5 separate regions of the Homo sapiens genome follow, and regions 1, 3, 4 and 5 are each reported to be linked to region 2. Evidence: microRNA targets listed by miRTarBase, many of them from high-throughput screens and not tested one by one. Region 2 holds a microRNA gene; each other region holds the end of a gene's coding sequence.

The links. Region 2 holds the annotated microRNA hsa-miR-1279 (UCAUAUUGCUUCUUUCU, at 3,576-3,592, shown strand). A microRNA usually pairs through its seed, bases 2 to 8, with sites in the 3' UTR of a target mRNA and lowers its output. Matches are read on the target gene's strand: a 7mer-m8 pairs with bases 2 to 8, a 7mer-A1 pairs with bases 2 to 7 and ends in A, and an 8mer does both.
Region 1: miRTarBase lists RNF222 as a target of hsa-miR-1279. Seed matches in the 3' UTR shown: 7mer-m8 at 3,511-3,517.
Region 3: the mRNA of SOX4 is a reported target of hsa-miR-1279. Seed matches in the 3' UTR shown: 7mer-m8 at 1,564-1,570.
Region 4: miRTarBase lists ZDHHC2 as a target of hsa-miR-1279. Seed matches in the 3' UTR shown: 7mer-A1 at 5,173-5,179.
Region 5: miRTarBase lists PTPRM as a target of hsa-miR-1279. Seed matches in the 3' UTR shown: 7mer-m8 at 4,964-4,970.

The regions. Positions count from the first base shown.
Region 1 is chr17:8,388,505-8,394,737 of GRCh38, reverse strand. It overlaps RNF222 (ring finger protein 222), which reads left to right. Exons shown (of 3, transcript NM_001146684.3): 2 at 409-560; 3 at 1,252-4,036. The coding sequence starts at 1,277. The coding sequence ends at 1,939. Among named protein-coding and RNA genes, the nearest start is that of RNF222, 6.2 kb to the left of the region's middle.
Region 2 is chr12:69,270,547-69,276,779 of GRCh38, reverse strand. It overlaps MIR1279 (microRNA 1279), which reads left to right and starts at 3,562; the gene lies at 3,562-3,623. It overlaps CPSF6 (cleavage and polyadenylation specific factor 6), which reads right to left. Exons shown (of 10, transcript NM_007007.3): 10 at 2,422-6,233.
Region 3 is chr6:21,593,771-21,600,003 of GRCh38, reverse strand. It overlaps SOX4 (SRY-box transcription factor 4), which reads right to left. Exons shown (of 1, transcript NM_003107.3): 1 at 1,385-6,233. The coding sequence starts at 5,469. The coding sequence ends at 4,045. Among named protein-coding and RNA genes, the nearest start is that of SOX4, 3.1 kb to the right of the region's middle. RefSeq lists an enhancer at 3,493-3,692 and silencers at 4,503-4,552, 4,603-4,692, 5,463-5,642.
Region 4 is chr8:17,215,173-17,221,405 of GRCh38, forward strand. ZDHHC2 (zDHHC palmitoyltransferase 2) reads left to right here. Exons shown (of 13, transcript NM_016353.5): 11 at 65-177; 12 at 2,000-2,074; 13 at 5,084-6,233. The coding sequence ends at 2,040. Among named protein-coding and RNA genes, the nearest start is that of CNOT7, 29 kb to the right of the region's middle.
Region 5 is chr18:8,404,987-8,411,219 of GRCh38, reverse strand. PTPRM (protein tyrosine phosphatase receptor type M) reads right to left here. Exons shown (of 33, transcript NM_001105244.2): 33 at 4,364-5,111. The coding sequence ends at 5,058. Among named protein-coding and RNA genes, the nearest start is that of RAB12, 200 kb to the left of the region's middle. RefSeq lists an enhancer at 3,995-4,639.

The DNA.
Region 1 (6,233 bases), not on the chromosome of region 2:
CAGCGCCTTGGCTTGCGTCTGTAATCCCAGCACTTTGGGAGGCCAGCCGAGGCGGGCGGATCACCGGAGGTCAGGAGTTCAAGACCAGCCTGGCCAACATGGTGAAACTCTGTCTCTACTAAAATTACAAAAATTAGCCATGGGTGGTGGCATGCACCTGTAATGCCAGCTATTTGGGAGGCTGAGACAGGAGAATCTCTTGAACCCAGGAGGTGGAAGTTGCAGTGAGCTGAGGTTGCGCCACTGCACTCCTGACTGGGCGACAGAGCAAAACTCCCTCTCAAAAAAAAAAAAAAAAACAAACCATCTTGTTACTTTATATATCTTGTTACTTTATATCTTGCTACTCCATAGCTTTGATTTCAAACAATATCATGCCACTTGATCACTCATTTACTTTCCTATCAGACTTGGCTACCAGTGACTTCTGGGCATTTCCAAAGTATCAGACATATTCTCAAAGGATGAAATTCTGTCTCCATCACGGTTAATCAGATGCTTCTCTCACTGCCTCAGGCAGCCCCATAAGAAGAATTTGGAGAATGACTGAGCTGTGGCAGGTGAGGGAATGAACCTAAAGCTCCCTGACGTGACTATGTGGAGGGCCAGCAGGCATTTGAATGTGTAAGTTCTAAGCTTTGTTTTTTTAAACAGTCATTGCTTTATAGCCACACTTAGCACAGAGGAATGCAATCCAATGGCTGGAGGAAATCCAATGGACCCGCCAACCCCAGGTGAGGGCAGAGGTTGAGACTAGCACGGGCTTTTCTGGAAAATGGCCACTCTGGGTGCAGGTCCAAATTGGAGACTGGACTGGGGCTGTGCATGCATCTTCTTAGCCACCTGCTTCCCCTGGTAACAGGGACTTCCTTTCTTCACTTCCGTCACTGAAGCAGGAAGAGGTGAGGCAGTGACCTCACCATGTGTGTACATGATGATTGAGGTGAGACATCAGGAACTCCACACACCTCCTCCTGGGGTCCAGTGTGACTGGGTTCTCTGGTTCTCTGTCTCCCGATTCTCCCTTCCAGAAGCATCTGCTCCTCTCCTCCTAAGGGTCTGGGTTCTAGGTTTGAGTCAGGTGGGCCATAGAGGAGGAGCAGCAGAAGAGCCAAGAGTAGGAGGAAGAGAGAGGAGGCAGAAGACAGGGAGAGGGGATAAGGGGCAGTGGAGGCAGAGGTGTAGGTGGGAGTTAGGACGGGGGAGGGAAAGAGGAAATGCCCCAATATTCACAACCCTTCCCGTCCACAGCTGAGCGTGCCATCTCCCAGTGGCCATGTCAGAAGGGGAGAGCAAGGACAGCTCGGGCAGTGAGTGCCCCGTGTGCTATGAGAAGTTCCGGGACCTGGAGGGCGCCAGCCGGACGCTGAGCTGTGGCCATGTGTTCTGCCATGACTGCCTGGTCAAGTACCTGCTGTCCACCCGCGTGGATGGGCAGGTCCAGAGGACCCTGGTCTGCCCCATCTGCCGCTACGTCACATTCCTCAGCAAGAAGAGCTCCCGCTGGCCCTCCATGCTGGACAAGAGCTCCCAGACGCTGGCTGTGCCCGTGGGCCTGCCCTCCGTGCCCCCACTGGACAGCCTGGGCCACACAAACCCCCTGGCCGCCTCCTCCCCTGCCTGGAGGCCACCTCCAGGCCAGGCCAGGCCGCCAGGCAGCCCGGGCCAGAGCGCCCAGCTCCCCCTGGACCTGCTGCCCAGCCTGCCCCGGGAGTCACAGATCTTTGTCATCAGCCGCCACGGGATGCCCCTGGGGGAGCAGGACAGCGTGCTGCCCCGCCGCAGCCTGGCAGAGCTCTCGGAGGCCTCCCTGGCGCCCCGCTCCGCCCGCGCCTTCTGCTGCCGATCGCGGGCCCTGCTGCTCATCACGCTCATCGCTGTGGTGGCCGTGGTGGCCGCCATCCTGCCCTGGGTGCTGCTGGTGAGGAAGCAGGCGTGAGCCGCACCTCAGGGAGGCCGCCGGGCTAGCCGTGGCCTGGGGTGGGACAGGAGGCCCACGGCAGCCCTGGTGCCACCAAGCTCCGAGGGGCACGCGGGCAGGCAGAGGGGAGGACCTGGGCACAGAGAGGGCCTTGGGCTTCCCCGACCCCCGCAGGGGCTTCCGCTCGACAGAGAGGCTGGAGCTGACTCCATGCGCGCGGCGCGTGTTCCCCACGTGAATCCTCAGCAGATGCGTTCCCCTTCCTCTAGGCTGGGAAGATGGGTGGTCACTGCCCTCCTGCAGGCTCACCAGCCCTGAGCGGCAGACCTTACCTGCCAGGTGACCTGCCCAAAGCCAGGTGGGCCCCTCCAGGGACAAGAAAGTCCTGCAGGCAGACGTCCTGCTGGGCTGGCCGATGGCAGGATCCTCCAGGCCAGAATTCCCACCCAGGATTTGCGGCTTGCCCTCGGGAACAGACAGAAGGGGCGCCCAGAATCTCAGCACTCACCCCCGACCTCCACCACAGCACCCCATCCCCTAACCCTCCCTGTCCCCAACCTGCCAGCTTAGAAGGGCTTCCCTGAAGGAGAAGCTGATCTCAGAGGCTGCCCCAGAATTTCTGGGAGAATGAACAGAAACTGTTCTTCCTGCAGAGCTGAGGCCAGATCCAGAGACAGGGGTTGGTTGATAGAGGCCACCCCAGCAGAGTGCCCCACGAACGGAGCCAGAGGTCTCCCTGAGCCCTCCAGGCCAAAGGAGGGATCCAAACTTTGAGTCCTGGGGTTCTCAAGGGTGGCAGGGAGTGGAGGGGAAGCCTGACAGGCGAGCCTTGAGTCAGCTGAGAACTATGTGGGCAAACGAACCCCTGGGGGCTCCCGCCTCCCTCCCAGCTAGTCCTCCTCCTCATGACCCAGCCACTCATTTAGAGGCCACACCAGCTGGGCCAGTTTCCTAGGTGGATTGCCAGGCTGGGCTGGGTGAGGAAGGGTGGGGAGGAAAACAGCTGTGCTTGTCAGGGACGCCGCCATCTCAACCGAGAAATGCTGAGGCCCAGGTGCCCTCAGCTGCTCCTCAAGGTCTCTTTGCCTGGGGCCCCCACGTTGGACTGTGAAGAGCCTCAGGTTGGGTCTAGCCTGAGTCATTCGGGGATAGCTATTGGCTGTTTATTGAGGTCCGTAAGTCAACCAACACCTTTCAATGGAAAACAACAAAAACCTCCAGCAATTATCTCAACTAAGTGGTGGTCTGCACCCAGCTGTGCCCACAGCTGAGCCCCCAACCTCCCTCAACCTATACCCCTCTGGGCAATTTGCTGTCTTGGTGGGGAGGGAAGAAATAGCAGTCTACGTTTTATCTAGTTCCTAAATGCCTGCAGTGCTGGTCATTTGGGGACCGCTGGGGAATTGGGCCCCACTACAGGGGATATTTGGGACATAGAGAGGGCTGCTTTAAAAGCACTTGTGGGCTTCTCTGTGCTCATTTCAAGATTACAGAAGTGGCCAGGCACGGTGGCTCATGTCTGTAATCCCAGCACTTTGGGAGGCCGAGGTGGGTGGATCACAAGGTCAGGAGTTCGAGACCAGCCTGGCCAATATGGTGAAACCGCGTCTCTACTAAAAATACAAAAATTAGCCAGGAGTGGTGGCACGTGCCTGTAATCCCAGCTACCTGGGAGAGACAGAAGATTCGCTTGAACCCGGGAGGCGGAGGTTGCAGTGAGCCGAGATCGCGCCACTGCACTCCAGCCTGGGTGACAGAGCGAGACTCTGTCTAAAAAAAAAAAAAAATTACAGAAGAGCACAGGTGCTATTGGAGGGGAGGGATACAGATGGATTCCATGGGGAAAATATTTATTATAGGAATAAAAATAATGTTAAATTTGCAAAGACTCCAATGAGTCTCTTTTAACCTCAGCCAGGCTGTTTTAAACAGTGTCATGAATTTCTGGGAACCTGGTTCTAGTCTTTTCAGATTCTGTCGTATTTGCCAAAAGTTTCTTTCAACATACTCTCAGTGTTTTTGTATGTTCAATGGTGACCTGTAGCTGCAACTCCTTTTATTGTCAGAGAATGCCAAAAGCTATTTTTAAAATAAAGGTATATATTTTCTCAAAGATTCCAGAGACTCTGCAATTTATGTGGGAAGCTCCGAGCCTGGACTTGAAGGACAATTCACTTTAGGTGAAAAAGTTTGATGCGGTGTCTCACTCCTGTAATCCCAGCACTTTGGGAGGCCGAGGCAGGTGGATCACGAGGTCAGGAGTTCGAGACCAGCCTGGCCAGTATGGTGAAACCCCATCTCTACTAAAAATACAAAAAATTAGCCGGGCATGGTGGCGCACGCCTGTAATCCCAGCTACTCGGGAGGCTGAGGCAGGAGAATCGCTTGAACCTGGGAGGTGGATGTTGCAGTGAGCCGAGATCATGCCACTGCACTCCAGCTGGGTGACACAGCGAGACTCTGTCTCAAAAAAAAAAGAAAGAAAGAAAAGAAAGAAAGGAAAAGAAAAAGTTTGAAATGCAAACAGAAATGGCTCTTACACATCTATTCAACCACAGTTGCAAAAGAAATTAAAATTAAAATTTGGCTGGCATGCCATTTTTCACCTATGAGCTTGTCGAAACCTGGAAGCCTCATAACCCACTCCGCTACTGAAGCTGAGGGAGGCAGAGGAATGGTTAGTGGGAATGTGTATTATTAAAATCCCTATCAAGGGCAATGTGACATTATCTACCAAAATTTCTGCTTTGCTCCAGCAATTCCTGTTCTAGAAACATCCTACAGATATACTTGCATGTATGGGCAGCAGCATACATGTGATGCTATATAATTGCAGCATTGTTTATAAAAATAAAGGATTGGAAAAACCCTAAATGCTAATCAATAGGGTACTGGTTATCTATCTTAAGGTCCAGGGAATATCATGCAGCTGTAAAAGAAAAAAAAAAAAAGAACAAGAAAGGACTCAATAAACTTATATGGAATGTCTCCAAGGTACAATGGAAAATGAGGAAAAGCAAGGTGTGGAACACCGGATACTGGATACTACAATTTGTATAGAAAGAGCAGGAAATAGGCCAGGCACAATGTCTCACGCCTGTAATCCCAGCACTTTGGGAGGCCGAGGCGGGCGGATCACCTGAGGTCAGGAGTTCAAGACCAGCCTGGCCAACATGGTGAAACCCTGTCTCTACTAAAAATACAAAAATTAGTCGGGCTTGGTGGTACGTGCCCGTAATCCCAGCTAATAGGGAGGCTGAGGCAGGAGAATTGCTTGAACCCAGGAGGCGGAAGTTGCAGTGAGCTGAGATCGCACCGTTGCACTCCAGCCTGGGCGACAGAGCAAGACTCTGTCTCAAAAAAAAAGAAAAAGAAAGAAAGGGGGGGGAATAAGAATTTACATTCCTATTTGCTTACTTATGCATCAAAAAAGTGGGAATGCAGGGCACGGTGGTTCATGCCCAGCACTTTGGGAGGCCAAGGTGGGAGGATCACTTGAGGCCAGGAGTTCAAGACCAGCCTGGGCAACATAGTGAGACCCTATCTCTATTTTTTAAAAAAAATTGTAATTACCTTGTGGTGGCGCACCTCTGTAGCCCCAGCTACTCAGGGGGTTGAGGTGGGAGGGTCCCTTGAGCCCAGGAGGCTGCAGTGAGCTATGATTGCACCAGTGTACTCCAGCCTGAGCAACAGAGTAAGACCTTGATGACAGAAAGAAAAGAAAGACAAGAAGGGCAGAAGGGAGGGAGGGAGGGAGGGAGGGAGGAAGGAAGGAAGGAAGGAAGGAAGGAAGGAAGGAAGGAAGGAAGGAAGGAAGGAAGTTGGGAAGATGTACAAAACACTAATAATTCTGACTAGCCATGGAAAGGAATGAGAAAATGATGGAATGGGAAGGGGAGTTTTCACTTTACCTTTTTTTTTTTTTGAGACGGAGTCTTGCTCTGTCGCCCAGGCTGGAGTGCAGTGGCGCTATCTCGGCTCACTGCAAACTCCGCCTTCAGGGTTCACGCCATTCTCCTGCCTCAGCCTGCCGAGTGGCCGGGACTACAGGCACCCGCCACCAGGCCCAGCTAATTTTTTTGTATTTTTAGTAGAGACAGGATCTCACCGTGTTAGCCAGGATGGTCTTGATCTCCTGACCTTTTGATCCACCCACCTTGACCTCCCAAAGTGCTGGGATTACAGGCGTGAGCCACTGCGCCCGGCCTCACTTTACCTTAAATTTATCCCTTTTGATGTTTGAACCAAGTAAATTTAACATTCAAAAACTGAATTGAAAAATTATTAGAAGCTAAAGATATCTTCAGTGTAC
Region 2 (6,233 bases):
GGGAGGCCAAGGCAGGAAGATTGCTTGACCCCAAGAGTTTGAGACCAGCCTGGACAATATGGCAAAACCCCATGCCTACCAAAAATATAAAAAAGTTAGCCAGGCATGGTGGCATGCACCTGTGATCCCAGCTACTCAGGAGCCCGGGGTAGGCTGCAGTGAGCCATGATCACACTACTGCGCTGCAGCCTGAATGACAGCAAGATCTTGTCTCAAAAAAAGAAAAACAAAAAAAGAATACTAACTGTCTTATAGGATAATTAAGAAACTAATGAAGCAATAGGTACAAAAACAATTTTTAAAAAATGTTGATGGTTGACCAGGCACAGTGGCTCACGCCTGTAATCCTAGCACTTTGGGAGGCAAAGCCAGACTCATCACTTGAGCCCAGAAGTTCGAGACCAGCTTGGCCAACGTGGTGAAAAACCGTCTCTACTAAAACTACAAAAAATAAATAAATAAATAAATAAATAAAAATAATAAAAAAAAATTGGCCGGGTGTGATGGCTCACACCTATAGTCTCAGCTACTCGGGATGCTGAGGCTGAAGAATCACTTGAACCTGGAAGGCACAGGTTGCAGTGAGCCAAGAATGCGCCACTGCACTCCAGCTTGGGTGAGAGAGCGAGACTGTCTCAAAAAATAAAATGTTAATAGCAATCCCCTAAAAAACAACAGGACAGCATCGGTGATTGTGTTCTTCAGCTGGGTTGACAACCGTTAAAGTGAAAACTGATGAAGACAATTACTGCCTTCTCCGTCCCATAGCTTGATCCATCTACCCTCTCCCAGGGGATGAATGTGTTACTAGATGGACTGCCACCATAAAAATGGGAGCCTTATCTTAGATAGCAAACCCTGACAATCTCACAGATAAACACTGTTACTTCTAAACTAAGCCATGCCCACACCACAATGCCCTCAATTTCTATTTCAAAGAAAACATAAGTCACTAAATATGACATCTTAAAATTTCTACCACACACCTACAGCCCACAAACTTCTATTTTTATCTACCCTTATCTTCTCTCCTGACAGGAAGAGGTGTTTCTCTTTTATCTATTCTTTTATCAATTTAATCTGCAGCCAAGAAGCTTTTTGAAATGTTGATTATGACACTTCACACAATTCAATGATTCCACATGACTCTTAGGACAATCTTTAATGTGACCTACAAGCTCCGGAGAGCCTAGCCTTGCCAACTGCTTGAGCTCCACACATAGGCTATGTTCTTCACTCCCTGCTTCAGCCAAACTGGCATTCTTTCAGTTCCTACTAGCATGCTCCTCTTGCCAAAAGCCCTTTTTGCAAGTCTCTGCCTAAAAGGTACTTCCCTTTCCCATTCACCATTTTTTTCCTACAGATCTCAGTATAACATTAAAGTAGTAAATTTCATTTTTTAAAGTTTTTCTATAAAATGAATATAGATTTTTGAAAGGTAAAGTATATATCATTTATCTGGAACTGACAATAGTTTATCAGAACTGATGTACCACACGAAAATCCAAGAACTGTTAATGAACTATAAATGGGAGAAAAAGACCAACAACATCATTGGAAATCATTTCTAATAATTATTGTTTCATGGTAATGGCTCTGAAACAAAACTAGGAAGACTGGGAAAAGTCTGTCCATAAATCTTTTGTAAAAAAAAAGCTTCTCTCTTTCACTAAATTAGGTCTTGAACTGAGTCATATGTAGTGTGGCATCTGGCCAAAAAATATTCCTAATGATCTTCTCTTAAAGTTAAATGACCTCACAGGGTAGGGACGAGAGTCTCAACTAATTCAACACAAATAGGGATTGATCAATGGAAACATACAACAAACAGTAACAGGAAATCTAACAAAAATCTGAACCACAATTTTAGTGGAGGCATGGAAAGGGATCCCAGTGATGGTAGTATTATTTCTCATGTTCATATTCACTTGTTTAGAACTGTTACCTTTAATACTCTGAAGCTTGCAGGTAAGAAATCTGAGGCCTGATATTAATACCTGGCACAGAAATATCTACTGAAATCACTGAAACTGAAGTCTGTTACTGTTTCAAAAGTACCCCATAATGTTTCCAAGCTAACCAGTAAAATATTTTTGCTACAAACATTTTTACTTAAGTCTAGTAAGGTTAATGATCCTCTAAAACTAGACAAATGCTTTCTGAATCTTCCATTTAAAAACCATGTAACAGCCTGGAAATCTGTCAGGCCTCTTAATCCTAATTTTAGCCCAATTATCAGTCGCTTTAAAGAGCACCAAAATGTCAATACACAAGAAAACCACCACTATCTGGCTTAAAGATAGAATACAGACAACAGTCCAATTTCTGCTATACTGCATATTGCCAATAAACATTAACTACTTAAAACCATACACAATGGTTACCAAATAACAAATTAAACAAAAAAGACAAACTGCAAAGTCTTATCAAAAGTTTGTTTTATTTTCAATACAAGATAAATACCATGCTTGTTACTAGTGCAGTTTAAGGCCGACAATGGCCATATATCAAACTGCCGAACAGTCACCTAAATGCTAAAGAAAGGAAAGACAAAGTAAACATTAAACACAAAATTGCAATTACAAACATTTTAATAAAATGGAATGAGCTTTTTAATTGAAGCTAATATGAAGTCTAATTCTCATGGACAGCAAAAAAAAAAAAAAAAAAGTCTATTAGATCAATTATCACCTTACCTTTTTGCACAGAAATCTTATTGTGAAGTCACCATAGAGTCAATAGCTAAAATTTTAAGACTTTCTTTGGCCTTCTGATATTAAACAAATTATTTACAAACTGTGATCAGTAATTCGTGGATATTGGTAAAATGATACAATTTTTTGTTGTTGTTGTTAAGGGCTTTCCATTAAAAATTGTAAAACAACTTTGTAAGGCTGTACAGGGCTGTAAACTACTTTGCTAATATACCATGGGATGCAGAGGAAGGAATAATAGACCTTTTTTTTAAGGCTAAAGTTATCAATGTTATAGATGCATTCCTTAAAATACATTATGATTTATACCCAAAGGATCCTTTCCCATTAAATACCACCTGAGTACTACAATTTTCAAAGTAAAAAAATAAACATGAATTCACCATAGTTATTTTAAAATAATTTAACTTACAGAATGTTGAGAAGTGTTACGCAGTAACAGTGCGACAAAAAGAACACACTTTCAAAACAAAATGTTTTCGCTAAATGCAGGGTCTGTCCAATTATGAAATTAATGTAAAACATTTACACCCATGGCAGAGTTTTAGGATACTCCCACGTGAAAAAAACTCTTGGTAGTATTTACTATGCAGTTACCACTTCAAGATGTGTGTGACTTCAATTAAATTCAACCTAGTATTTAAAAGACTCCATTACAATATGTTAATACAGCAGGAAGTCTTTAAAGACATTAAAATCTGTCGTATATAATCAAGTATTTATACGTCCCATACAAAAACCATAGTAGCTGCATACTCAGTGAATGCCACAACCTGAAATTCTAAAAAAAGAACATTGGTTAAGACAAACCTAAATCAATCTGAACAGTGTTGCCTGAATATTTAGAATATTCACAAAAATTCATATTGCTTCTTTCTAATGCCAAGAAAGAAGAGTATAAGAACTTCCTCCCAGAAGCCTAGACATTTTAATACATTTTCTATTTCAACTTACAATGAAACTTTAATCCTGAATCTTGATTTATCTAAATCAAAAATCTCACATTACGAACACAAGGAATGCCATATGTAAGGCCACATCTTAATAAATTTATAATTTTTGGTTGAATATTTATTGAAAAAATCAGTCTAAGGCTTCTAAGAGTCAAGTTGCTTAAAAAAATAAATACACCAGTGTTTAAACTGAAGTTAAGGTTAAAAAAACGCATACACACACACACACACACACACACACACTGTAAGAACAGAAAAATAGAATGCTTTGCTACAAAAATCCCACTTAATATATTTTAGCACAAAAATGTCTAATATACACTGGATAAGCGTGCATTTACGTACATACAACTAGGGGAAACATTTACAGAGGGCTACGGGATGCAAATGAACTTAATGAGTAATAAAAACCAGTTGTTATCTGTAAAACAGAGAATCTCAATACTGTATTCTCAGTCAAGAATTAGAACATAAACTTCCTCTTAAGCTGAAGCTTAAAACACAAAATTGGAGCCATTTTAGAAAATACAGAAAATGCAATGATCATTCAGGTATGAAAACCAAAATGTCGAGAGCACTCCAACAGAAAAGTCTTGTAATGCATCTCATTGTATAAAACAGTATGTATTTAGATTGGCACAGTTAAATACATAAGGGAAAGAGAAAGTCTTTGCCCTTTCCACAATTTTCCTTCACTATAAAATATTATACAACATTCATTAAAACCTCCATGTTTATTTTAATAACTGACCTGAAACTAGTAAAAAATAAAGCAATATTCTCCACAGGAGAATTAAATGAAAATAGTATCTTAAGCTACAAGTTATCTGTGTATTCCAAATTGTCATTAACTGCTTAAGAACATTCTAGGTAAAAGGACCATTAAATGGGCTAAACTATGATCAAAAGCCACTGCAACTTACTCCAAACCTTATGAAAAGTGACAAAAAAAAAAAACACACATCTGCAAATTTACACTGGAATATGCTTTCCACAACATAGTTCCTTTAACCAAAAGCAGCACTTTCAATCCAAAGTGTTGCCTCAGAAGCAGTACCATTCAGGTACTGTATCACTCATCTGTTTAACTTTACTACTGGCTGAAAGGAATGTGACTGTATAGCACTAATAAATGCTATGTTTTAAAATTCAACTCGTTTGTTTTCACATCCACTACAGTTATTAACTAAGGAAAAAATGAAAAGGTCTCTGAGACACTGTTTTTGGTGTCTATGCAAGGATTTATCTCTTTGGATTGTTTTTACACATTAAAAAAAGGAAGAGTTTTCAAATAACATTAACCCATAAACAACTGAAGGGGGTATGAAGAACAAAACAAGGCCTGCAATTTTCACCTTTACTGCTATACATTCACGTGTTATCAGGTAGAGAAGGACTTTGCAAAATTACTTGGTCAAACCAAGAAGTTATTTCCTTCTGACAACACTTAAAATAACGGATTAGCAGCAAACAAATCTAGTACACTCACACTGTCTGTAACGAAAGTCATGTAATGAGATCAGCCAAGCAAGGAGAAGAGTGATATAGAAGGAGCAATTAAAAGGTTCCATTGATAAAATATGAAAAGGTAAATAAAGGATTTAATTAGTATAAAATTTCCAGTTTCATTTCAAGTGCAGTTAGATTTTTGTGATTCCATTTTTAAACTGTTCAAAGAAAATTTTATTTTCATGGACATTTTACTTACCTTTTAACCCTTTACTATTAACTAATTTCTCTTGTAATATTTATATGTCCATACTTCTTCGCATTAGGGCATTGTAGTCAAAATATTAAAAAGCCAAGAAATGACACAACAATATACAGAAAACAGGAAAATTTTGATACAACTCTAAAATAATGTTAAAAAAGCAACCGCATTTTCAACAAAATGCTTTAAAAAATCATTTCTGAAAGTGAACAGTTCTGATAAACATCAACGATCCCATGCACAGATACTTCAAACACAAAATATTTTAAAATAAAACTGGCAGTGATATGGGTAATTCAAAACAGCTAATTTTGTCAGAAGTGGTTTGATAGCAGACAAGATGAAAGTGAAGAACAGCAGTGGAAATTTCTGGAGGGTTTCTACAGTTGCACATAACACAGTATCTAGGGTATTTTAACACTTTAAGCATTGTCCTAGAATTTGGGTACTCTTTAACAACCAATGTGTATTAACAGAAGATCTCTCAAAGATAATCAGATCTTAAAAACATATTAACGTGCTCAAGAATTTTAAGTCAAATTTCTGAAGTAGTGATTTCAAATTACATTCCCATAAAAACACCTAATCAAGTTGACACCCTGCCTCTGCCAATTTTGCAATCAAGAACACATGCTAGTCAGGTGCTTTTAAAGTGGGCCTATATGTAAGGCAGGTTTGAAAAAAATCTTTGATTAAGTAACTATAGCATGAATCAATACGGTGCATGAATATACATAGTATTCCTTAAACTGTGCAGACACGGTTTATCTGTAATTTCCCATTACAAATACTGGGGAATACAACCGAATGTTAATGAACATCACATCCTTCAAAAATTTATACCAATTGGAAAAT
Region 3 (6,233 bases), not on the chromosome of region 2:
CTTCATTTATGTCATGGTATTGATACCTTGGATCTGAAAAAAGCTAAACCATTATATTATCACTGCAATGAACAAAAATTAAAAGCACTTTTCTAAAGAAGAGTTCTTCCTTTTACAAAGATCTTTGAAGAAACTTAGATGCCATGTTGTTCTAAGGTCATTTTAAAAAATGGAATTCCAATTGCAGAACGCAAATGCAATTAAAACTAAATATATGAGCACCACACATGAAAAAAATGTTGAAAACTAGTAGCTATCTTTAAGAGATAAATTATATTGAAACACAAGTTATACTGGTTTTTGGGGGTGCATTATTGCTTTTCGTTGGACAACCACAAAACCCCCTCCTGTTAGACTAGTCTTCAAAAGGTCTCTTTTTCCAGATGTACCTTCCAGGATACTACTCCCTTATCTACAAGCAATCCAAATGACTAAGGGATAATTTCCAAACACTTCTGCTTGTTAACCCCTCCTCTCCAGTGCTGAAAAACTCAAGACAAGTAAAAGACACATTTTTAATTAACATTTGGAAGATGGCTTTTGTTAGTTAATAGCAATTGTTAACTCTCAAAATAAACAGGAAATAGTGCCACTTAGCAAGTTGTATGTTCCAAACCCAAGAGTAATGGGCCTTAAGAAATCCAAGTACTTTTTCACCTTGCAGTCTCAACAATCCTTCCTGATTCTTAGAAAAAGCACAAATCTCCAGCAGCCAAAGTAAGTGCTATTTGGAGAGGGGGCTTTCCTCTGAGCCCACATGCAGCCAGCTTCTCCAGGTCATCCTTATTGCTGCAGTTCTCTTACATTAACACCATGTTGGGCATGGCAAAAAATGAAGATTGTAGCACATCAACCTTTCTGCTTGAGAAAAAAAATGCATAAATGCATACGTTTTGCATTTCATAATCGGTAAAAGCCTCCTCCTGTATAATCTACTGATAATAACAGTTTATTTGTCCTTAACCCACGAAAACCAATTACAGCCACTGCTGGAGGTAAGCATGGGCAAATCAAGGAGAAAGCAGCTCCAGGAGCACCAACTTGAAAAAAAGATCATCTAGCCAGTTTCATCTGTGAAGAATTCTGTCCACGTTGCCCCTCCCCCTCTTTCAGATTCCAAGACAAAGGGCGTTTTTAAATATGGTAAACTCAGAAAATTCCTAGAAAGCATGTGTTGAGTTGACACATATTCAGCTGATGCCATCATTTTCAGGGTCAGAGGAAATCTGGCCAAGAGACATTTAATGTTCCTCGATAAGGTAGCATTTGACAAGACTCCTCTGAGAACTTATTTTTTTAAAGCTAAGGCAGATTGTGTAGTGTCCAGATACTGTAGGGCCTTTCCAATCTTAGGCATTGGGCATAATAACGACAAAAGTCAAGATTTAGGGTTCAGTTCCAGCTGATTTTATTTCCTTCTCAAAAAAAGTTATTTACAGAAGGTATATATCAACAATCTGACAGGCAGTGAACTTGACATGATTAGCTGGCATGATTTTTTCTTTTTTTTCCCCCAAACATTGTTTTTGTGGCCTTGAATTTTAAGACAAATATTCTACACGGCATATTGCACAGGATGGATGGCAAAAAAAAGTTTAAAAACAAAAACCCTTAACGGAACTGCCTTAAAAAGGCAGACGTCCTAGTGCCTGTCATGTTATATTAAACATACATACACACAATCTTTTTGCTTATTATAATACAGACTTAAATGTACAAAGATGTTTTCCACTTTTTTCAATTTTTAAACACAACAGCTATAAACCTGAACACATATGCTATCATCATGCCATAAGACTAAAACAATTATATTTAGCGACAAGTAGAAAGGATTAAATAGTCAAATACAAGAATGAAAAACGCAGTACATAGTGTCGCGAACTCAAATCGGCATTTAGATAGATCCAGTGGTTTAAACGGCACGTTTTTGCTTATAAAAAAAGTGCAAAAAAGATGTGGTTTACAAGTTAAAGCTACAGAATCCCTTTTTGCTGTAATTGCACCAGTTTTAAAGCCTCTGGACAGAGCAGTATTTCGTTTAAAACTTTGTTTTTCTTAAAAGCTTACAGTGTTTGGCTAATTCTCCTCCCCTTTTTACAAGACGGGGGCCGGAGGGTGGACACTGGTGGCAGGTTAAGGGATACTGTCACTTTAAGAAGCCTGCAGATTGAAGTGTAAACATGGAGAAATTAGGGGCTGATTTTTTAAACTGTGTGAGATATTAACCAGCCGCCCTGTTATAAAATCAGGAAATCCAAACAGCGATTTACACCGATTAACACCCCCTTTATATATTTTTTACAAAAATACACTGAGAAAATAATCAAACGTTTTCATCTCTCTTGTCTTTTTTTGTTTTTTAAAAGTGTCAAAAGTCTACATTTAAATATAAAAAATTAAAAGTTAAAACTCTAGCCCTTCAGTGAAGGAGACGTAAAATGGCGTGGGTAACAACAACTACCAAAAAAAAAAAAAAAAAAAGAAAAAAAAAAGAAAAAAAGGAAAAGGAAGGAATAAAGAAATAAAGGAAGTAAAAAGAAAGGAAAGAAAAAAAGGGACAAAAGAAAAAATATGTTTGGCCAGTATAAATACGTCCACATATAAAATGGCATCTGATTACATTTACAAGGAAAAAGAAATACGAGGATGGAGCATCGGTGAAGGAAAAAAACACGTCTTCTCATTTACACCTATAAGGAATAAACACACACACTGAGAAAAAATTTGGTCCTGAATTGTTTTTTTAAAGTCCAGCACAGATTTGAGTTGCGTTTGAATCCTTTAAAGAGTTAAGAATGAAAAAAAGCTGGTGATAATTTCGTTGTAGGAATCAAACATAGCGCCATCTATCTGCTTTTTATATTATCCTACACTATTTTAAAAACTGCTCAACAGTCTTATACAGAAATCTTTAAAAGATAGACAGGATAACATGCTATATTAACCCCACCATTGAAATAATCCAACACCATCACGATTCCGATTAAGAGAAGAAAAAAATCTTTTTTTTTTCTTTTTTTTTCTTTTTTTCTTTTTTTTTTTCCGAAACCACTCGCCCTCCACTGACTGCCCCTGTACCACATCAAACAGTCTCCTCTCCTCCACGCCTCCGGGGTCTGGGAAGTCTCACCTCACTGATTTCACGTAGAAAAGAAGGCGGAGGCCCAGCAGCCGCCGCCGCCAGCTCCCCAACGTGCAAATCCATTTCAGTTTGACCGTGAACCCCCTTCCAGTTCGTGTCCTCCTCCGCCCCCGCCCCTAGCTCCCGCTGCTGCGCTTCCAACGGGGTTCTCGGGTCATTTCCTAGCGCCGGTCACACTGGCTGGCCTCCTCCCCTCAACATCTCCTCCTCCGGCTGCAGAGGGGGCAAGGGGAAAAGAGGGAGGAAAAAAAAGCCCCAAACGGGAATTCGCCTGCGTGGAGTCTCTCAGTCCCGGCGTTCCCCCAAAACATCTGCCATCGGCCAAATTCGTCACCCCGGAGCCTTCTGTCTTCATCACGCGTTTAAAAAAAGGGGGGGAGGGGTGCGCTGGGTTCTCCCCTCCTTTCTTGACCAAGAAGCAAAATAAAACAAAACCAAGGTGGTGATGCAGGAAGGGGGAGACTCCTTCAAGTCTCTAGAAAACTAACTCGCCTTCTTGCTGGGGGTGCAGACAAGTCCGGAAGCTCGTTGGAAGGGGGAGGGGGTCTCTTCAAGCAAAGGGGAGCAAACTCGAAGTCGCTTTTTTTTTTTTGCCATCAACAACAACATCAATAACAACAATCACAGGTCGCCCCTGTCTACCCTCTTCCTCCTCCGCGTCCCTCCGGCTGGGCAGAGTGGGTCCCCGGCCCGGGAAGGTGGGGGATGGGAGCGCGGGTCCAAAACGCCGCCGCGCTCCTTGATCCGACGACGAGAACGCGGGCGAAGCCAGCCCTGCTTACTTTTTCTTTCTTTTTTCCCTTTTCTCTTTAAACTCTTCGTCTGTCCTTTTCGTTTCTTTTTTTCACTTTTTTTTTCTCCTCTCCTACCCCCCCCGGCCCTTCTCCCTGCCTGCGCGCCCTTCAGTAGGTGAAAACCAGGTTGGAGATGCTGGACTCGAGCCAGTCTCCCGAGATCATCTCGCTCACCTCGGGCGTGCAGTAGTCCGGGAACTCGAAGTGCGAGCCGGAGCCGGGCTCGAAGTTAAAATCCAGGTCCCGGTCGAGCGCCGACGACGAACTGAAGCTGCCCAGGGACATGCTCTCAAAGTTTGAGCTGGGGTTCAGGTCGAGCAGGTCGTCTTCGAACTCGTCGTCGGAGGACGAGGAGCCCGAGGAGGAGGAAGAGGAGGAGTGGGACGAGGCCGAGGAGGACGCGTGCGAGGGCGCGCTGGACGGGGCGGGCGAGGCGGCGCGCAGGCTGGCGTAGCCGCGGTGGTCGGCGGGCGAGCGGCCGGCGGCGGGGGACGAGGCGGCGCTGCTGCGGCCGCTCAGGCTGGGCGCGTCGGGCGAGCAGCCCGCGCCCTCCTCCTCGTACAGGCCCAGGGGGTCGCTGGGGTCGGCTCCCGCGCCCACGCCGCCCACGGGCGACGACGACGTGCCCAGGCCGCCGAACAGGTAGACGCGCTTCACCTTCTTCTCCGCCAGGTGCTTGCCCGGGGCCGCGAGCGCTGCGGAGGCCGAGGCTGCCGAGGAGGCGGAGGCCGAGGCGCTGGGAGTCCGCGCCTTGTACAGCGAGTGGTGGTCGGCGGCGGCGCCCAGGGGCAGCAGGGCGGCGGCCCCCGCCTGTTCGGCGGCGAAGGAGGCGGCGGCGGCAGCCGCTGCTTTCCCGCCGCCGCCGCCGCCTGCCAGGATGAGCTTGGCGTGCGGTTTGCTAACCCCACCGCCCGCGCCGCCCGCCACTTTGGAGCCGCAGCTCTTTTTCTGCGCCGGTTTGGAGTTGGCGCCGCCGCCACTCGCACCGCCGCCTCCTCCCCCCGCGTTGCTGCTCCCGCCGCCGCCGCCGCCCCCATGGCCGCCCCCGCCACTGCCACCGACCTTGTCTCCCTTCTCCCCCGGCTTGGAGGAGGCGGCGGCCGAGGAGCTGGAGTTGGCGTTGCCGGACTTCACCTTCTTCCTGGGCCGGTACTTGTAGTCGGGGTAGTCAGCCATGTGCTTGAGGCGCAGCCGCTCCGCCTCTCGAATGAAAGGGATCTTGTCGCTGTCTTTGAGCAGCTTCCAGCGTTTGCCCAGCCGCTTGGAGATCTCGGCGTTGTGCATGTCGGGCGACTGCTCCATGATCTTGCGCCGCTCGATCTGCGACCACACCATGAAGGCGTTCATGGGTCGCTTGATGTGCCCACTCGGGGTCTTGCACCAGCTCGGGTCGTCGGCCTTGCCGCCCGTGGAGGCGGTGGAGCCGGGCGTGGGGGAGGAGGCGATTCCCAGCTCGAGGCCGGCGCCCGAGTCCGAGCTCTCGCCGGCCAGCAGCGCTTCCGTGTTCTCGGCATTGTTGGTTTGCTGCACCATGGCCTCGGCTCGGCGGGCGCCCACGCGCGCTCACACCCTCGCGGCGGCCGCCGCGCGATCGCCGGGCCCTCCCGGTTCCCCGGGCCAAGCACACGCCGAACGGGAAGACGCGCGCGGCGGCCGAACTGGCCCCTCAACTCCTCGCAGGGGCGGAGGTGGGTAAAGAGAGAAAAGTCCCCAAAAGATTTGGGGAAGGAGTTCTCCGCCTCTCGCAGAGGAGTTATAGTTCCCAGGCTGGAGAGTCTCTCTCTCCCTCTCTCTCGCTCTCTCACCGCGCTGCAGTTTGCTGTCTCTCGGCTGAGTCTGGAGACCGTGCTAAAGTAGAGAGGAGTTTCTCGAATGCTGGTTGCTGAAGCTTCCAATGCAAGTTTCTCGCGGCCTCCCAGGCAAGTCTTTTTTTTTTTTTTTTCTTTTTCCCTGAAGCAGTTGATTCCAGTTCACGAGCGCTCTCGGTAGCTCAGGAAAGCGACATAGTCTCTAGCACTTAGTCCCTCTCCTACAATGCAAAGCAAAAAAGACTGTGGCTCCAGGACTCTCTGTGGGCGGAATCGGCACTAAGGAGTTGGTGCAATTATTTTGTTGCAAGGTAGGAAGCCAAAAAGCCTGCATGCAACAGACTGGCATGAATAAATGTATGTTTCCCCCTCCCTTCTGCAAGAAGGGAGCTGGTAATGGCAGGAGTTCCTCCAGTGCAGACTCTTAAAGAGCGTGCAAGAACTAGAGACCCGACAGCGAAACAGGCCTCTTCCCCTCACACACAGTTT
Region 4 (6,233 bases), not on the chromosome of region 2:
CAATCAACTTTACTATCAAAAATTAGCTTATGATGATTTTGATGATTATTCAATTATTATTCAGTCTCGAAAACCATCAGTTTCCTGCAAAGCCATTGAGAGAGTCCCAGAGCCACCTTCTTACTGATTCTCAGTCTTGGACGGAGAGCAGCATAAACCCAGGAAAATGCAAAGCTGGTAAGGGTGTGCTTGTTTGGCTGTTTTTTGACATATTTTATTTTTAGAAGGTAAACGTGGTTAAAAAAAATCCATTATACTACCTACAGATGTTTTCTTAGTTTGGAGTCAGACTTCTATTCTAAATTCAGAATTATTTTCAAAGAACTATTTATGAGGTTCGTTAATAACCTGTTAGCAGCAGAAAATCATTTTGTGAAAGATGGATCTGCATTGCCTTTTTTCTGTTTAAAGAACCAAATCTTTATCACCATTCCTCAAATAAAATGATAGAAGTAAATTCAAAATATAAAGTATAAAAATGAAAAAACTACAATCAAATCAGATAGAAGATAAATATCTACTGAAAAGGACCTTAAATTATTCAGTTCTATCTTTTACTCCAAGATTTCTGTCCAATTTCAAAATGTCTGAGTAAAGTTACTGTGTACCATAAGTTCAGCTGCCTGCGATTTCTTCATATCCCACTCACATTCCTCTTGTTACTGTTGTTGATTTCAATCTTTTGTTTTCTTCAGTCAGTGTAGTTTGTTAGCAAGGAACAAGCAAGGCTCCGAAGTCAGACCTGATTTAAAAACCCTAATTTGGGCTCCTAGTAGGGTGTGATATGTGTCACGTTACCTAACATCTTTTAGACTTAGCTTTGTTCTTTTCAAAAGACTACCTATTTCTCAATATTGATAAGGAGTAGACAAAATAGGGTGATCATACATGCATGTGTGTGTATATATGTGTGTTGTCCACATAAAGGAGTTAAAGCCATACATCTGTGATTAAGGCGTTATTAGCCAGAAAATCTTCAGATTGACTACTAACCTTTTCTCCTTCGTTTCTAGTCTTTTCAAATAAACCAGTCAACGTTTTAAAGTGTAATGAACCAAAGTCAGGTAGTACGAGAGTTTGAAGAAACCTCTGGGATTTAGTGGTAGCGAAAAACAAATGGATGATCCTGAGTAAATATTCTAGTCATTATTTAATATATTATCAGTCATCTTCTCCTAAAATAGAAGCTTTCTTTAGCCTTATCTTTAAGAAATATATTTGCCTCCCAGAGGGTCCCATTATTTGACTATTCATAATTTGGTCACTCTCTTGACCTTCACACATGCCATTTCACTTTCTAATCTATGGCAAGGACTAGGCATTGCCTAAACAAAAGTTGATGACACTGATTTGTTCTTTGAATCCATCATTTTCGTTAGAGGCAGAGAAGTGATAAATAGTTGGGGGTCAATTGTTGAGACGTGGAAAAACAAAGAATTCCTCTTCATCCAGAAGGGATTCACATTTCATCTTACATAATTTATGTTAAAATAGCAGTGGTTTCTTGATTTTCACATGCTATTATAATTCTTCGGCATGTTCGATTAATTTTTTTGTTAGTTGGATGAAATGAAGAACTACTTAAAGTGTAAAGGATGATGTATAGGAAGGAAAAGAAGCAAGAAAAATGAGGTGAGAAAGTGCTCAAAGATTGGTTTGACTAGAATGAGGTTGGTAGAGGAAGAATTTGGAAACGTTGATGTAAGCTGATGTGAGCAGTGTGGGTCAATATATCTTTCATTATTATGTTTCTCTACTTCCTCAGATGTCTATTTCTGTTTTTAGTGTTTTGTGTGTGTGGGAGAGAGATAGTGGTTGTAACTGACACTGTATAACGGGTGTGTGTGTGTTTCTATATCACCATCTTATATATACCCTTATTATGTACAAGGCACCTTTGGAAGTCTACCAAGGGATTCCTTATTCATAGATGAATAAGAAGTTTCTGCCTATTTGTTCAAAAGCAACCAAAAATGCTAACTTATGTGCTTTCATTAAGGTATGAGCAATCCTGCATTAACCATGGAAAATGAGACTTAACTCTTCAAGCAAGATAAATTCATACTTTATAAAAGTACGATAATTTTCCCTTTATTGTTTTATATTTTTAACAGTCTTCTAATTTTATTAGGGCAAATAGTTTCCATAAACATTTTTAATAATTTGTGAGTGATTCATATAGAAGATCTTTTACCTGACTTGTGAGATTGCATTAGCCATGCTGGGGCTTCTGAGTGCAGACCTAGCTTCAGTATTAGCTGGTATTTGTGTTAACTTGATTAATTATATAAATAAGTTGATGAACAAGAGTCATTTTATATTAATGCATTAAGTGGTAGGGATCAATCCTAAAATACTGAACTATATGTAAAAATTATCTTGTCATTTTATAGGAAGTTAGAATAATTATTTTTAATTTTTCTTCATCTTTCAGAATATACAGTGGTCATATCCTTGACCATCCATTAGGAAACTCTAAGTCGAAGTGCAATATAATTATATCTCATTAATGTACTCATTAGCACACTGTCATTCCCATTTTTGGGTCATAGTAGGGCCTTATAGCATGTGTTAACCTTAAAATAATAGGTGTTCCAAATCATTTTCTTTAAGCCTTATTTTTTTTTAAACCTGCAGTTCCAAATCAGTTTCTTTAAAATATGATCTGTTTGTAAGCCTGCAGTCAATAAAAAGCTACAATAAGGAACCCCTTTGGAACAAACAACTATATAATAAACAGTTTACCGAGCTGAATATTAAAGATAGCAAGATAACTCTCTCTTTACATAACGGCAATCTAGAATCCTAAAGTCTATGAAAAGCAAGAGATTCACTTGTAAAACAAAATGATTTGCATCAAAGTTCATGGATATCTGTTTTTATTTGTCTGTTCTGGTTTTGGTAAGTTAGCCATGTATTGTCAGCAAAATGCTGACCTGGCAATTTGCCAGCTGACTAGTATCTGATTTTGGGAAGAGCAGGATCAGCTCTGAATACCTGTTGCTACAGTAGGTCAGACTGACTATAACTGGTTAAAATAGTGAAAATTTCATCTGAATTTGATTAAATAGCAAAGACATTATTAAATTTCTGAAAATAATTTTAGAATGTAACTATGAATGTAATTTTAGAGTATAGCTATAGCAAATATGAGTCACTACCAGCCAATACCACAAATAAAATATACAGAACATAGTTCTGTAAGACATAGAATTTCACAGGATTTTTTTCAATATTTTGAAATCATCAGTTGCAATAACCATTGTTTTTAAGGTCAGTGCTATTAGGAATTTTTCTGTGTGTTAAGTGTTTTACATATTTACATGGTAATATTATATAAAAGCCATCGAGACTTCCCAGTATTTTGACAATACCAGTATTGTGGTTATTTATCTCCAACACCTTGCACAATGCCAGACACATAGTAGTTTCTCAACATTTGATGGATAAGTGACAAAATTAAAACATTGAAATTAAAAATCTGACAGAAACTTGATTTTATTAATTCAAATATGGCATGATTAGGCATAATCACAAAATGGCAGCATGAATCAGCGCTATAGATCTAAAAATACCCGATTTTCTGATGTCATGTTTTCTATTCTATCGATACAACCAGTTGCAGTAACATGTTTTGTTTTCTTAAACTTTCCCTAAAGTAGCTAATAGAAACTAGACTTTTAAAAATAATTTTTTCCTGCTTTACATCTCAGATTTGCAATTCATTCCAGTTGTATTTATATCAAATAATAGTTTGATACTGATGTGCCTAATTTATATTAAATATCTTCATATTGGCCGGGCGCGGTGGCTCACGCCTGGTAATCCCAGCACTTTGGGAGGCTGAGATGGGTGGATCACAATGTCAGGAGCTCAAGACCAGCCTAACCAACAAGGTGAAACCCCATCTCTACTAAAAATACAAAAATTAGACGGATGTGGTGTGGCGCACCTGTAATCCCACCTACTCAGGAGGCTGAGGCAGGAGAATTGCTTGAACCCAGAAGGCAGAGGTTGCAGTGAGCCAAAATCGTGCCATTGCACTCCAGCCTGGGAGCTTGGGTGACAGAGCAAGACTCTAAAAAAAAAAAAAAAAAAAAAAAAAACAGAAAAAAAACACTTCATATTTTTTCTCCTATTTTTGAACTACAATAGTAAATGATGTCACCTTTTTATAAAATATTTGTTTGTTCAGCAGTTTCCAGATGGTTATAATGTGCCTAAACCCATAGTTAGTACTAAAAAGTAAATTAAATTTAGCTTACCAACCTTTCCTATCATATGGTATAAATAAAAAATGCTGGCCAGGCGTGGTGGCTCACACTTGTAATTTCAGCACTTGCGGAGGCCAAGGCAAGCAGATTGCTTGAGCTAAGGAGTTGAAGACCAGCCTGAGCAACATGGTGAAACCCCGTCTCTACCAAAAATACAAAAAGAAAAAAAATTAGCTGGGTGTGGTGGCATGTGCCTGTGGTCCCAGCCACTCCAGAGGCTGAGGTGGGAGGATGAGAGGATGACTTGAGCCAGGGAGGCGGAATTTCCAGTAAGCTGAGATGGAGATCGCATCACTGCACTCCAGCCTGGGTGACAGAGTGAGGCCCTGTCTCAAAAAACAAAACAAAACAAAACAAAGCTGTGCTTCTATGCACATGAAGTTTCAAAATCATTTCCCTAAATGTCCTTCCTGACTCAGTTGCCACTCCTAAACTCCATTCAGCCTCAGATGAATGCAGAACTAACAACATAGAACCCTGCCACTCACATTGAAGCCCCAAACCAGCAACATTGTCATGACCTGGAAGATTAATAGAAATGCAGAATCTTAGGCCTTATCCTAGACCTACTGAATCAGAGTCTGCAATTTTTTTTTTTGCATTTTAATAGGATCCTTTCGTATATGCATATTAAAGTTTGAGCAGTATTGATGTAGAGTTCCATATTCAAGAGCACGTCTACTGAGCCTGCTAGCATAGTAAACAGTTTTGAATGAGGGATATTATTGAAACAGATTATGAAATGAGTTGGTTTGTTTTGCGTGTTTATGGTTAACATAGTAGTTTCATGTTTTCTGTTTCATTTCAAGGTATCAATGCTGTAGATGGATGGAAGAGGCTTCCCACAGGAAGGTGCCACCAGTCAGTTGTGCCTATGTCCCTTTGGCTGGAAATGCAGAATATGAATTGATTAGTTCTCTCCAAGCCATTGCTTAAAATATAACATGTTTTGGATCCAATACACACATTGTTACAACTAACACAAATTCCTATTAAATATTAAAAGTAGTTCTGGTTTATTAATCAACGGGGAAAACATCTTCTCCAAAAAACTTGGAATAAATCCAAGGACCAGTTTTTACCCAAATATATGGGTAGCACAGTTTATCACATAGAAACTCCATTAATCATCTGATTTTCCGAATCTGAAAATTGAGACTATTAAGATATTAGGATTTCAGAGATTTCAAGTCACATTATAATGATAAGCATTATTCATAAAACTTGTTACCTTTAAGAAGGTGGAAGTGGCAAACCATACTTCTTTTTTTTCCTCTGATGTGAATCCAGCCTCAGACTGAGTGAACTGTAATAATTATGAATTCATTACAGAGTCCAGGTGGCCTGCAGTTGAAGATCATCAACCATTTTTGCCTCACTTAATTCCAGCCTTTTGTTTTCTGCTGGAAAATAAGTGTGGACATTGAAGCTTGAGCTCTCAAAGCAGTTGGCTGGAATACTTTTGTCAGAATACGGTACATTTCTATTACATCAGAAATATATTTTCATCTCTTCTTGTTAAATTGGGAGGAAATTTATGATAGCAATTATGAAGATTGTTTTATGACATTCTTTTGTCAGTTTGGCTTTCTAAAAATCTCTTTTTAGATTATTTCTCCTGTTGAACATAGTAAAACTATTGAATTTCTCTTAAGAATTCCTAATAGGTCAATAGATTTACCCTCCAGTGATATCTATATTATTTCTTTCTCGTCTCATCAAAATGATGACAGGTAAACTATATTTTTCCTTAAACACCTATTACAGTTAAATTATGCAAATCATTAAATAAAAATCATACAACTTTTGGAAAGTTAGTTCAACATGAACTAAAATGGCATGCTATTTGGAAATTTAGTTTGAGATAAACTAAAGTGTGTTGATGCCAGAATGTTCAGCTTCAGTAAATATAATAAGCTCTTGTGCCTTGTATGCACTATTTAAAAAAAGTTTTTTTTA
Region 5 (6,233 bases), not on the chromosome of region 2:
AATCTTTCCTCTTTTTGAGAATCTGGAGTACAGTTATGAAACAACTGCTTTAATGTGCTTGTCTACTAATTCATTGGTATTATTTCTGAGTCAGTTTCATTGGTTGGTTTTCTCATCATATGTCATGTTTTCCTGATTCTTTGTGTGCCTAGTAAGTTTGGATTGGACGCCAGACATTGTGAATTTTACTTTCTTGGGTGCTGGATATTTTTGTATTCCTGTAAATGTTCTTGAGTTTTGTTCTGAGGTGCAATTAAGTTACTTGGAAACAGTTGGATGCCTCAGTTATTGCTTTGTTAGGCAGGCCCACAGCTGTGCTTAGACCAGAGATAGTTTTGCCCCACTACAGAGTCAAAAACATGAGTGCTCTATTCAATGGAAACAGGAACTATTCTGGCCTGTGTGAACTCTGAGTATTGTTCCTTCTAATCTTTTCAGGTTTTTTTTTTTCTTTGTAATGTCCTTACAAGGTTGTTGTGATCAGTACTTAGCTAAAGACTTGAGGGGGACATTCTGAGATCTTCAGAACTCTTTCTCTACGTAGCTCTATGTCTCATACTCTGCCCTGCAGATCTTTGCCACTTTGGCCTTTTTGACTTTCAGCCTTATCTCCTCAAATAAGAGAAACCATGTGGCTCCACCTGGATCCCCCCTCCCTGCACCCATGTTCTAGAAGTTCTCTCAGGCCATAAGCTAGGGCAATCCTAGGGGTCACCTAATTTGTTTCCTGTTTCTTGGAGATTGTTATCCTTCATTGCCTGATGTCCAGTATCTTGCACACCATTTTTAAAAATATATATATTTCCCAGTTATTTCTTACACTTAGGAGGGTAGATTGGTTTTTGTTACCCTAGTTTGTCTGAGATCAAAAGTCCTGGAAGAGTTTCTCTAAAATTAACCATTTGTAGAGTGGATATGATGGAAGTATGAAGTGTCAAGGGCATTGAGAGGGTGTTAGCAAAACTGGTTGAAGTGATACATCATGGGGCTTGGGTTGTTCTGTGGAAAAGGTAAGAAAGGGTGCAGCACTCAGGATTGGGCTGAAGGTTTTCATAAATACAAAGAACAAGAATAAAAGAATAAGGCAAAGATAAAGCTAGCAGTTGAAGAGGCTGGAGTCAGAATGTGGCATGTTTATTCAAGATTTCAGAGGTCAGGCAGTTCAAGGTGACAGGCTGCAGGGTGTGACCATCAGCTCAAGTGGAGTATGAGGGTGGTTGTTGAAATTGATTAAATCTTTGAGACATGAAAGAATGACTTACCTCTATTTGAGAAAGTTTCAGAGGGAGCATTTCCGTGGAGTTCGGGGAAAGACAGCCTCGTTAATCAAGCCTGTGTTAATCAAGTTTATTTACAATGGAATAATGTTTCCTTAGGGCATACTACAAACGACTTGGAGCACTGTCGCAGTAGAAGGTGTTAGGATGAAAACGCATAGTAGGACAGAGGGGATGGTATATGGGAGGAGCCTTGACTGGCAAGCCACATGTTCCAGGGATGAGATTTGCTAAGCTCCAGCCAACCAGCCTGCAGATGCTGAGGTGCTGGCTGATGTGGGAGGTCTGCAGCTGGCCAGCAGGTGGTGGCCAACCTCCCAGATGGCTCCAATGATCCCCACGCCCTGGTATTTGTGCAGTCCCCTCACATAGTGAATAGGACTGACTTTTGAAACTATAGGATATTGTGGCAATGACAGTATATAATTTCCAAGGCCAGATCATACAAGAAATTGTGGCTTCTGCCTTGTTCCATTCTGAATCCCTGGAAGAAGCCAGTGCCATGCTGTGGGGACAGTTAAGCAGCTGTGGAAAGGCCCACATGGGGGGAAACTGGGGCCTCCCATCAACAGCCAGTTGCACTTTGCCAGGCCTGTGACTGAGCTACCTTAGAAGTTTATTTCCAGCTCCAGTCAAGCTCTCAGATGACTGCGGCCCTGACCCATTTTGATGGCCACCTCACGAGCGATCTTTGAGCCAGAATCATCCAACTAAATCATTTCTGAACTTCTGACCCACAGAAATGGTATGAGATAATAAATGTTCATTGTTAAGTTTCCAACTTTGGGGACAATTTGTTATTCAGCAGAAGGTAACTAATGCACGTTTTAGTCCTGGCACTAGGATACCTTAACAAAACCTAAAAATGCAGGCATGAGTTTTGACCCAGTGAGCAGAGGCTAGGAGGGCCCTTAGGAGAGAGGTGGAGGAGCTCACACCATTGTTATTCACCTGCGGGGCCCACAGCTGCTCCACTTTCTGAGTGTAAAAACAATGTGGCTGCTGTTTCCCTTCTGCCTCTACGTCTTACACCAAATGACCCCTGCAGCGCACCCCATCTGGAAATATACAGAGAATGGAATTCTGGAAACACACCTCAGTCTTGCTGTGCTGACACGTTACAAAAGCATCATGAGGTGCTGCTGTGAAGCTGACTTAGAGGGGGACCGTGCCAGGGGCAGGACCATCAGCTTCCAGAGCAGTCACAGGCTTTGAAGTGTCTGGGGGGTTCCGGATGCCACAACAGAGGGGAACCCAGAGCACTGCGAGAAGACAGAGAAGGACTCTCAGCCAAGAGGGTGGCTTCTCTTGCTTGCGAGGGGCAGAGACTTTCTCAGTGTACTGGAAATAACAGGTCTCAACCATGCTGTGAGGCCTCGTGGGAAATCTGAAAAAGCCACAAAATGCCTGTGCCTTTTTTTTTCTATCACTGTTTCCGCTAAAAGGTGAAATAAGTGAAAGAAAGATAAAAATCCAAGAGATTGAAAACAACTGGCTCCCATGTGAGACCGGGGTATGACGACGCAGGGAATGACTGGGAAGTGGCGGTGTCATTAGACTCACACATCTGAGGTCACTTCCTCGCCATGCTCAGATGAGCCGTCTTTTCACCCATGCTGACGGACTGGAGCCCAGAGCCACGCCGCCATGATCACGGAGGGCCAAGGGCTTCACCACACTCCCCTGGTCAGGGCCCAGCTCACCCGCAAAGGGTGCAGCGGTCCATATGTCTTCATCCCTATTCCTATATCCTGGAGAAATCATTTGGAAGAGGGACAGACAAAAATAGCAGCCTGCTAGTCTCTTAGGAGCTTAGCAAAGAGAACTGGGTGGGATGGCGAGGGGCCATCCTCCAGGAGGAGTCTGAATGTGAGGCATTGAGTACAGACTCGAAGCTCCGCTGCAGCCAGCTCTTCCTGGGGGAGGACAGGGTCCCACCCACCCAGTTTAAGGAGGGGTCTAGAGAAACTTACACCAATCGGGGCATATAGATTGCTCAGGGTACAGCGAAGCAGTAAAGGTCTAACACGCAGATGTCCAGGTCAGTCCTCTTGGAGGGCAACCTCTGCCCTTGAAGTCTTTGGTCACCAAGATCCCCAGAGCAGGCAGGAACAGTGCCCTCAAGCCTCTCCACTTCCCACAGCGGGTGGCGGGCCAGTCTCTGTCTCGGCACTAGCAGACTCTGCTCCTCTGCCATGGTGAGGGTGCTGCCCTTCCACCTCCCATGGGCTCTGGAGGCTTCTGGCACTTGCTAGCCAGTGTGACTTTGGACGGGTTATTTAATCTTTTCTAGCTTGAGTTTCTTCATCTGTCAGGTGGGTTTCGCAGTTGTACCTGGCTCATGTTTGGGGAGCACGTGCTACCACACAGGAAGATGCTCTGCATGGTATCTGGTTCACAAGAGGTGTTCGACAGAGCTTTGCCTCTGTCAGCTCTTGGCAATCGTTAACACAGCCTAAAACCCAAGCTAAATGCAAGCTGCAAGGCCACCGTGCACCTGCCTTCTGTGTCAGCGGCCAGAGCCCAGGGTGGCGCAGAGCAGGTGCTCTGGTGGGAACTTGTTCAGCTCGGTGTCCTTCAATGCACTCTGATTCTCTAACCCTTTAAAAACTGTTCTCTCAGCAAGTCTTAGGTTGGCCTGAGGCATAGAGAAGAGAGATATTATCCCCCGCAGACTGAGGGGAAACAGAGAAAGGAAGACGATGCTCCAGTTAGCAAGTCTCTGCCATGGCCCCTGGCCTGGCTGCCCCACAAGGTCAGGGCTCACGCCCCATGGTGCAGGCTCATGGCTGAGCCTCCCCGGCACCAGGGCAGGCCACCGTGAAGGGCTCAGTGCTCTCACTGACGAACACTCTCTCTCAAAAAAACTCTACTCTACTTGCTCCGGCAAACAGGCCCCGGCCGCACTCTCTCCCCCTGTGTGCTGGCGTGTCGGGTGCGGCCTCCACCGCCTGTGCACTGGGACACCAGGAACATGCCACGGCTGCTCACGGGTCATCATTTATTGAGATGAGAATTCACATAAAGTAACATCATACAGAAAATCGTTTCCAGGCCTTAAGAAAAATGATTGTCACTCACTGTGCTTCACAAAAATTTCTTTTAATGAATAAATAATTTGATGAAATCAAAAATATTTACAATATAAACACATGGAAAAGCTCTGGGTCCGTGAATCTGATCGTTGAGTTTTGCATTTTGTGAACTGAGTCCTCCCCCAAGCTTTTCCCTTGGAAACAATACAAATCTGACAGAAACGACGACTCATACAACATATCTTTGTTCATTACACATTTATCTGTTAGTCCTGGAAAGCTACATAAGCATATATTATGCAACATGTTAAAGTACAAATATTACCTAAAATAATATATTACCATAATGCCAGATAGCATTCTCCACAGAACAAAAACATACACTCAGCTGTAACAATAACGAGGGTCACGGGCCACAAAATAATACCCCAAAGGTACAAATTCCTTCATAAGAATATAGTTGTGCTCTTCAGTTTACCAGCTGTCTACGCTGCTCTAGGAAGCCGGTGGCAAGGAGTACGGGATTTGGCAACTGTGGCTGTGTGTGTGTTTCTGTCAGGCAGCAGCATTACTGGGATTGGGCAGTGCAAGCAATTTTAGAAACACTTTCTTGGGCTCTTAAAAAGAGCCAATTATGCAAAGCAAAATAAGCATATTGAGAAGTCTTCATCTCTTTTGCACAAATACCATGGAACGTCTTGGCTTTGTGGTATGAAAGGGATTGTTTGCAGAGCTGTTTACACCATCAGCCAGAATTCAAGTATTCCAGGGCCACCTCGTAGCAGAACTTGTACTGATCCTGGAAAACAGGAGGGGAAAGTGTCAGCTCAAGAATATCTCAACGCTGTTCCTAGTAAAGCAATTACCATAGAGTAGGGTCTTAATGGGAAGACATCAATCTGGGAGGATTTGAATTAGAAATGAATCAGAAAGTCACGGTTCTGAACTCCAGATACATTCACTGTTTGGAGATGCTCCCCACAATGCTGGGTGGAAGGTATTTTGCTACCTGTGCTGGCTAGAATTCCCGGAAGGTTCTGGACACTTGGAACTCTAAATATGTTTGTCCACACATGTATTTTCCAGGATATCAACATGCTGAGCTTTGTGCAGGAGGGTCAGGGGTAGAAGAGAAAGTAACGAGTGCTTCAGGAAATGCCTTCCTGACATCTCTCACAAGGCCCTTGGTACCTAGATGAGGCCTCATGCATGATCCAGCTTTACCTTTGACTTTCAGTCTGTGGGAATTCCTCAATCTCATGAGAATTTCATAAGCACCTCCTGAATACCAAGCCCCTTGACCTGGTCCCTGATTTTGAGAAGTCCGTGATCCAGTGAGGAGGATGAGACAGGTAACCCAATGACAACACATGAGGTGGAATGGTCCCTATGCTCAGGGGACGGCAGGTCTTCTTAGGGAAGATGGCAGTGGGAAGTGGACAGCGCCTTCCCCAGAGGACGGAACTGATGCGTGGAGTGGAGGCAGCCTTGGTTTGCCCTGGACGGTCCTGGCTTCTGCCTGTTGTCCTGGCATAACCCTCTTTCACTCTCAAAGTGCCCTAGTTTGGATAAAGTACGTGGCCATCCTCACCCGTTAATTAAAACAGGCATTCCAGGCGGAGGCAACAGGACGAGGAAAGGTACAGAAGGGGAAATGTTTGAGATCCTCTGGGACCCATAGACCAGTTCTTCATCAGACAGGGAATTAATTTCTCCCTCCTTTCTTTTTTTTTTTTTTTTCTTTTTAAGAAACATGGCCCTTTGTCACCCAAGCTGGAGTGCGGTGGTGCAATCATGGCTCAACACAGCCTCGAACTCTTGGGCTCAGGCAATCCTCCCACCTCAGCCTCCTAATTAGCTGGGATTATAGGCACGAGTCACCACATCCAGCATTGGATTCATTTTTCTTGAGCTCAGCTTT